Regions from separate parts of the Homo sapiens genome. Here region 1 is linked to region 2. Evidence: fine-mapped expression QTL. A gene starts in region 2. The other region holds a variant in brackets. All regions are shown on one strand. Distances are between the middles of the regions.

Region 1 (3,017 bases), 78 kb before region 2:
TTCTCCCCTGACTTCCCCAGCCCAAGTAAACAGACCGCGCCCACGAAGCTGCAGAGGTTACAAACCTGAGACTAGGGTCTGATGCCTCCCCTACTCACTCTGCCTGGTCCCCCAGCCATGGTCTCTCAAATATTCTCATTTCTAGCCTGGGCATGATGGCTCATGCCTGTAATCCCAGCACTTTGGGAGGCCAAGGTGGGCACTTGAGACTAGCCTGGCCAACATGGTGAAACCCCGTCTCTACTAAAAATATAAAAATTAGCTGGGTGTGGTGGCCCACGCCTCTAATCCCAGCTACTCAGGAGGCTGAGGCGTGAGAATCGCTTGAACCTGTGAGGCGGAGGTTGCAGTGAGCCGAGATCACTCCACTGCACTTCAGCCTGGGTGATGATAGAACGAGATCCTGTCTCAAAAAAAAAAAAAAGTATATATATGCCAGGCTGGTGGTCCATGCTTGTAATCCCAGCACTTTGGGAGACTGAGTGAGGAGGATCACTTGAGCCCAGGAGTTCAAGGCTGCAGTGACCTGTGATCACATCACTGCACTCCAGCCTGGGTGACAGAGCGAGACCCTGTCTCTAAAAACATATTAGCTCAGCATCCTCCCTGCTTCAAGCCCTCCCAGACTCTCCATTGTTCTCAAGATAAAAATTCCCCTTCTCCCGCTGTGTAAAAATCTGGCGGTTCCTCACACAGTTAAACATAGAAGCTGGGCACAGTGGTACGAGCCTGTAGTCTCAGCTATCGGGAAGCTGAGGCGGGAGGATCACTTAAGCCTAGGAATTGGAATCCAGCCTGGGCAACACAGTGAGACCCCCGTCTCTAAAAATATAAAAATAAAAATAAAAAGTTAAACATAGAGTTACCACATGACCCAGCGATTCTACTACTAGATACATACCCAGAAGAATTGAAAACAGAGATTCAAAGTGGTACAAAAATGTACATTATTCGGGTCATGGATACACTAAAAGCCAAGACTTTGCCACTAGATGATATATATTTTATTATATGCATATGCATATAATAAAATTGCACTTGTACCCTTTAAATTTATACACAGAGGCCGGGCACAGTGGCTCACGCCTATGATCCCAGCACTTTGGAAGGCCGAGGCAGGCAGATCACTTGAGGTCAGGAGTTCCAGAAGAGCCTGGCCAATGTGGTGAAACCCCATCTCTACTAAAAATACAAAAATTAGCTGGGTGTGGTGGCATGTACCTGGAATCCCAGCTACTTGGGAGGCTGAGGCAGGAGAATCACTTGAACCCGGGAGGCAGAGGTTGCAGTGAGCCAAGATCACACCATTTCACTCCAGCCTGGGCAACAGAGCAGGACTCCATCTCCAAAACAACACAAACAAACAAAAAATTGTACTAAGAAAGAAAAAGAGGCTGGGTGTGGTAGCTCACACCTGTAATCCCAGCACTTTGGGGAGGCCAAAGTAGGAGGATCGCTGGAGCCCAGGAGGTTGAGGCTCCAGTGAGCTATGATTGCACCACTGCACTCCAGCCTGGGTGACAGAGCAAGACCCTGTCTCAAACAAAACAAAACAGGCCAGGCGTGGTGGGTGACTCACGCCTGTAATCCCAGCACTTTGGGAGGTCGAGGCGAGTGGATCACCTGAGGTCGGGAGTTCAAGACCAGCCTGGCCAACATGGTGAAACCCTGTCTCTACTAAAAATAAAAAAATAGCTGGGTGTGATGGCACATGCCTGTAGTCCCAGCTACTTGCGAGGCTGAGGCAGGAGAATCGCTTGAACCTGG[A/G]AGGCGTAGGTTGCAGTGAGCCGAGATCGCGTCACTGCACTCCAGCCTGGGTGACAGAGGGAGACTCTGTCTCAAAAAACAAACAAACAAACAAAAACTTGTACATGAATGTTCACAGCCCCACTATTCACAATAGCCAAGGTGGGAACATCCAAAATACCCATCAACAGATGAAGGAAGAGACAAAATGTGGTCCATCCATGCAATGGAATATTGTTCGGCCATAAAGGAGAAGTTGGCCAGGTGCAGTGGTTCATGCCTGCAATCCCAGCACTTTTGGAGGCCAAGGTGGGTGGATTGCTTGAGTTGTGGAGTTTGAGACCAGCCTGGGCAACATGGCGAAACCCCATCTCTACAAAAAATTCAAAAATTGAGACAGAGCGAGACTCCGGCTCAAAAATAAAATAAAATAAAATAATAAACAAAATGTGGAATGAGCCAGGCATAGAAGGCCAGCTGTTGTATGATTTTTTTTTTTCATGAAGCATTCAGAGTAGGCAAATTTAGAGACAGGAAGTAGATTAGTGTTTGCCAGGGGCTGGGGTCGGGAGAAGGGGGAGTCACTAGTGCTCAATGAGTACAGAATTTTGGTGTGTTGTGATGAAAAAGTTCTGGAAATAGGCTGTGCGGGGTGGCTCAGGCCTGTAATCCCAACACTTTGGGAGGCTGAGGTGGATGGATCACAAGGTCAGGAGTTCAAGACCAGCCTGACCAATATGGTAAAACCCTGTGTCTACTAAAAATACAAAAATTAGCCAGGCGTGGTGGCGTGCACGTGTAATCCCAGCTACTCAGGAGGTTGGGGCAGGAGAATCGCTTGAACCTGGGAGGCGGAGGTTGCAGTGAGCCAAGATCATGCCACTGCACTCCAGCCTGGGCGACAGAGAGAGACTCCATCTCAAAAAAAAAAAAAAAAAAAGAAAAAGAAAAAGTTCTGGAAATAACAATGATGGTTATGCAACATTGTGAATGTAATTAGTGCATTAAACTGCACACCGCCTCTTGAACCCGGGAGGCGGAGGTTGCAGCGAGCCAAGGTAGCACCACTGCAATCCAGCCTGGATAATAGAGACTCTGTCTCAACAAAATAAAAATAACAATAAACTGCACACGTAAAAATGGTTAAAATTGGCCAGGTGCGGTGGCTCACGCCTGTAATCCCAGCACTTTGGGAGGCCAAGGTGGGTGGATCGCGAGGTCAGGAGTTCAAGACCAGCCTGGCCAACATGGTGAAACCCCATCTCTACTGA
Region 2 (2,714 bases):
GCTCACTGGCTCCAAGCAACAGACAATGATGTCTTCAGACTAGGGTGATAGTATGGAGACAGGGAAGACACCTCAGAGGTTCCCCATGGGACTCAGAATAAAATCCAAATTTTAAAAGTCTGAGCCGGGCATGGTGACTCACACCTGTAATCCCAGCACCTGGGAGGCTGAAGCAGGCAGATCACTTGAGGTCAGGAGATCGAGACCAGCCTGGCCAACATGGTGATACCCCGTCTCTACTAAAAATACACAAAAACACTGGCCAGGTGCGGTGGCCGGCGCCTGTAATCCCAGCTACTCAGGAGGCTGAGGCAGAAGAATGGCTTGAACCCGGGAGGTAGAGGTTGCAGTCAGCCGACATCGTGCCACTGCACTCCAGCCTGGGCGACAGAGCGAAACTCCGCTTCAACAAAAAGAAAAAAAGAATTCTAAAAGGCCATTTTCAAGGCCCCGCCAGATGGTTCCCCTCCCTTCTGCTTCATCCTTGACATTCTTCAAAAGGACAAGCCCATCCTACCAGGGCCTCTGCATTTACTGGCCCCCCTCTGTGTGGAAGGCTCCACCCTCCAGGGATTCCCATAGCTGGCATTCATTGTCTTAACTCAAATGTCCTCTGCTTGAAAAGGCCTTTCCCTGGGCCAGGTGTGGTGGCTCACACCTTTACGTAACCCCAGCACTTTAAGAGGCTGAGATGGGAGGATCGCTTGAGCCTAGGAATTCCAGACCTGCATGGGAAACGTGGCAACACAAAAAACACACAAATTCGCTGTGTGGTGGCGCGCATCTGTGGTCTCAGCTACTAGGGAGGCTGAGGTGGGAGGATCACCTGAACCCAGGGAGCCACAGTGAGCCACTGCACTACAGCCTGGGCGACAAAGTGAGACCCTGTCTCAAAAAAAAAAAAAAAAAAAAAAAGAAAGAAAGAAAGAAAAGGTCTTTCCTGACTACCCAATATCAGAAGCCTCCACTCTGATCATATCATACGTAACCTCACATCATACGTAAGTTTTTGTAAATATTTTCTCATTAATGCACTGACACCCCAGTAGAAAGCAACCTCCAGGAAGGCAGGGCCCTGTTTCGGTCACCGCTGCATGCGTAGCGCCCAGCACACTGCTTGGCACACAGTGAGCACGCCCTAAGTATCTGCTGATGGGTAAATGCATTCTATTCTGGGGAAGCAGAAAGGCCAAGGCTTGCAGCAAAGTGAGGGTCAAAAGACGCGGGAAAGTGTGTCAAGGGAGCCTCAAAGCACTTCGGAAAAGCAGCTTTTCCAGAAAGCGGGACACAGGCCAGAGGCCAGCTGCGACGAAAAGAGGGGTGCAGGGACAGCCCAAGGTTGTCGCCGTATTGGGGAACGGAGGTTGGAGCAGCCCTGAAGGCGGTTGTTTCGGAAACGGGACGCAGGGCCGAGCCGGGTGGCGGCCTCTACGGAGATCCGTGCGTCCTCAGCAAACCAAGCGGGGGCGGCCAGCAACCTGGGTCTGGGGTCTCGAGAAACCAAGAGGTGCAGAAGCCGACGCTGTGGGCTGCCCCGGGGCTGAAGCGAGGGATCCACGGGTCGCAGCAGGACGGACCCGAGGAGTCAGGGGAGACACCTAGCCCCAGGGACCCAGGCGGCCGCCTGAGAGGAGGCGGGGGCTGTTACCTGCAACATCCCGGTTGTCCATCTTGAGACTCATCCAATCCCACAATGCTCCGGCGCCCCTTAAGGGGCCCTGTTATAGTGTGCATCGCCTGATGGGAGATGTAGTCCGCCTCGGTCAGACTCGCCCTATTACTGCGTGAACGACTGGGTTTTTTTTTTTTTAACCTCCAGAAACGGAAGCCTCAGCCTATCAGCGATGCCTAAGTCCCAGTCACGATAACCAAACGGCGTCGCCCTTTTACACCTTCCCGGAGCGGCAGTCATCCCAAATACAAACTACATGTTCCAGGATGCTTTGGGCGGCAGATCTCGCGGAAGCCGCGAGGAGAGCCCGGCCCCGTCTCGCGCGCCTGCTTCCGCCTCCCTGTGGCGGCGGCTTGTTGTTGTGGAGGCCAAAATGGCGGCTCAGGCGGCGGCAGCGGCCCAGGCGGCGGCGGCCCAGGCTGCGCAGGCCGAGGCGGCCGACTCGTGGTACCTGGCGCTTCTGGGCTTCGCTGAGCACTTCCGCACTTCCAGCCCGCCCAAAATCCGCCTGTGCGTGCACTGCCTGCAGGCCGTGTTCCCCTTCAAGCCGCCGCAGCGCATCGAGGCCCGTACACACCTGCAGCTGGGCTCCGTTCTCTATCACCACACCAAGAACAGCGAGCAGGCGCGCAGCCACCTGGAGAAGGCGGTGAGCGCGGGCCGGGCCGCGAGGGAGGAGTCGCGGGCTCCTTGCAAGATCTGGGCTGACGGGTCGCGACCGCGGCGGGTGGGGGGCCGCTCCTCGGCGACCTGGGGGCGCGACCTCCGTCAAAGCCGCAGGACCCCCACCCGCCTCTGCCGGACCCCAAAGCCACCAGCCTCTCAAGGGACACGAAAGCCTCGCCCCCCACGCCTTATTTCCCGTTTCTGGTGACAGGGCTCCAGGAGCCCCGTCACCGTACTCTGAAAGTTGCCTGTTATTGGGAGCAACAGGATCCGCAAATCGTCTGGTTTTCAGGAGGATCCCACCTGTTGGTGGCGATGGGGACATCACAGGGTCCTGAAGCTATTAGCTCCTCCTGGTTCAGCTTCCGGAGCATCA

What was found. PIP is the estimated chance that this variant, and not a neighbour inherited with it, causes the effect.
Region 1: its variant is the best candidate, but not a certain one, in a credible set for the expression of SUGP1 in whole blood (TOPMed, PIP 0.51).

Annotation. Positions count from the first base shown.
Region 1 is chr19:19,240,849-19,243,865 of GRCh38, forward strand. The region is part of intron 12 of NCAN (neurocan); the gene reads left to right. Among named protein-coding and RNA genes, the nearest start is that of HAPLN4, 20 kb to the right of the region's middle. The variant A/G (reference allele first, on the strand shown) is at 1,768.
Region 2 is chr19:19,318,815-19,321,528 of GRCh38, forward strand. It overlaps SUGP1 (SURP and G-patch domain containing 1), which reads right to left and starts at 1,695. Exons shown (of 14, transcript NM_172231.4): 1 at 1,649-1,695. The coding sequence starts at 1,682. It overlaps MAU2 (MAU2 sister chromatid cohesion factor), which reads left to right and starts at 2,015. Exons shown (of 19, transcript NM_015329.4): 1 at 2,015-2,321. The coding sequence starts at 2,046. RefSeq lists enhancers at 1,563-1,612, 1,633-2,122, 1,831-2,714 and a silencer at 2,174-2,395.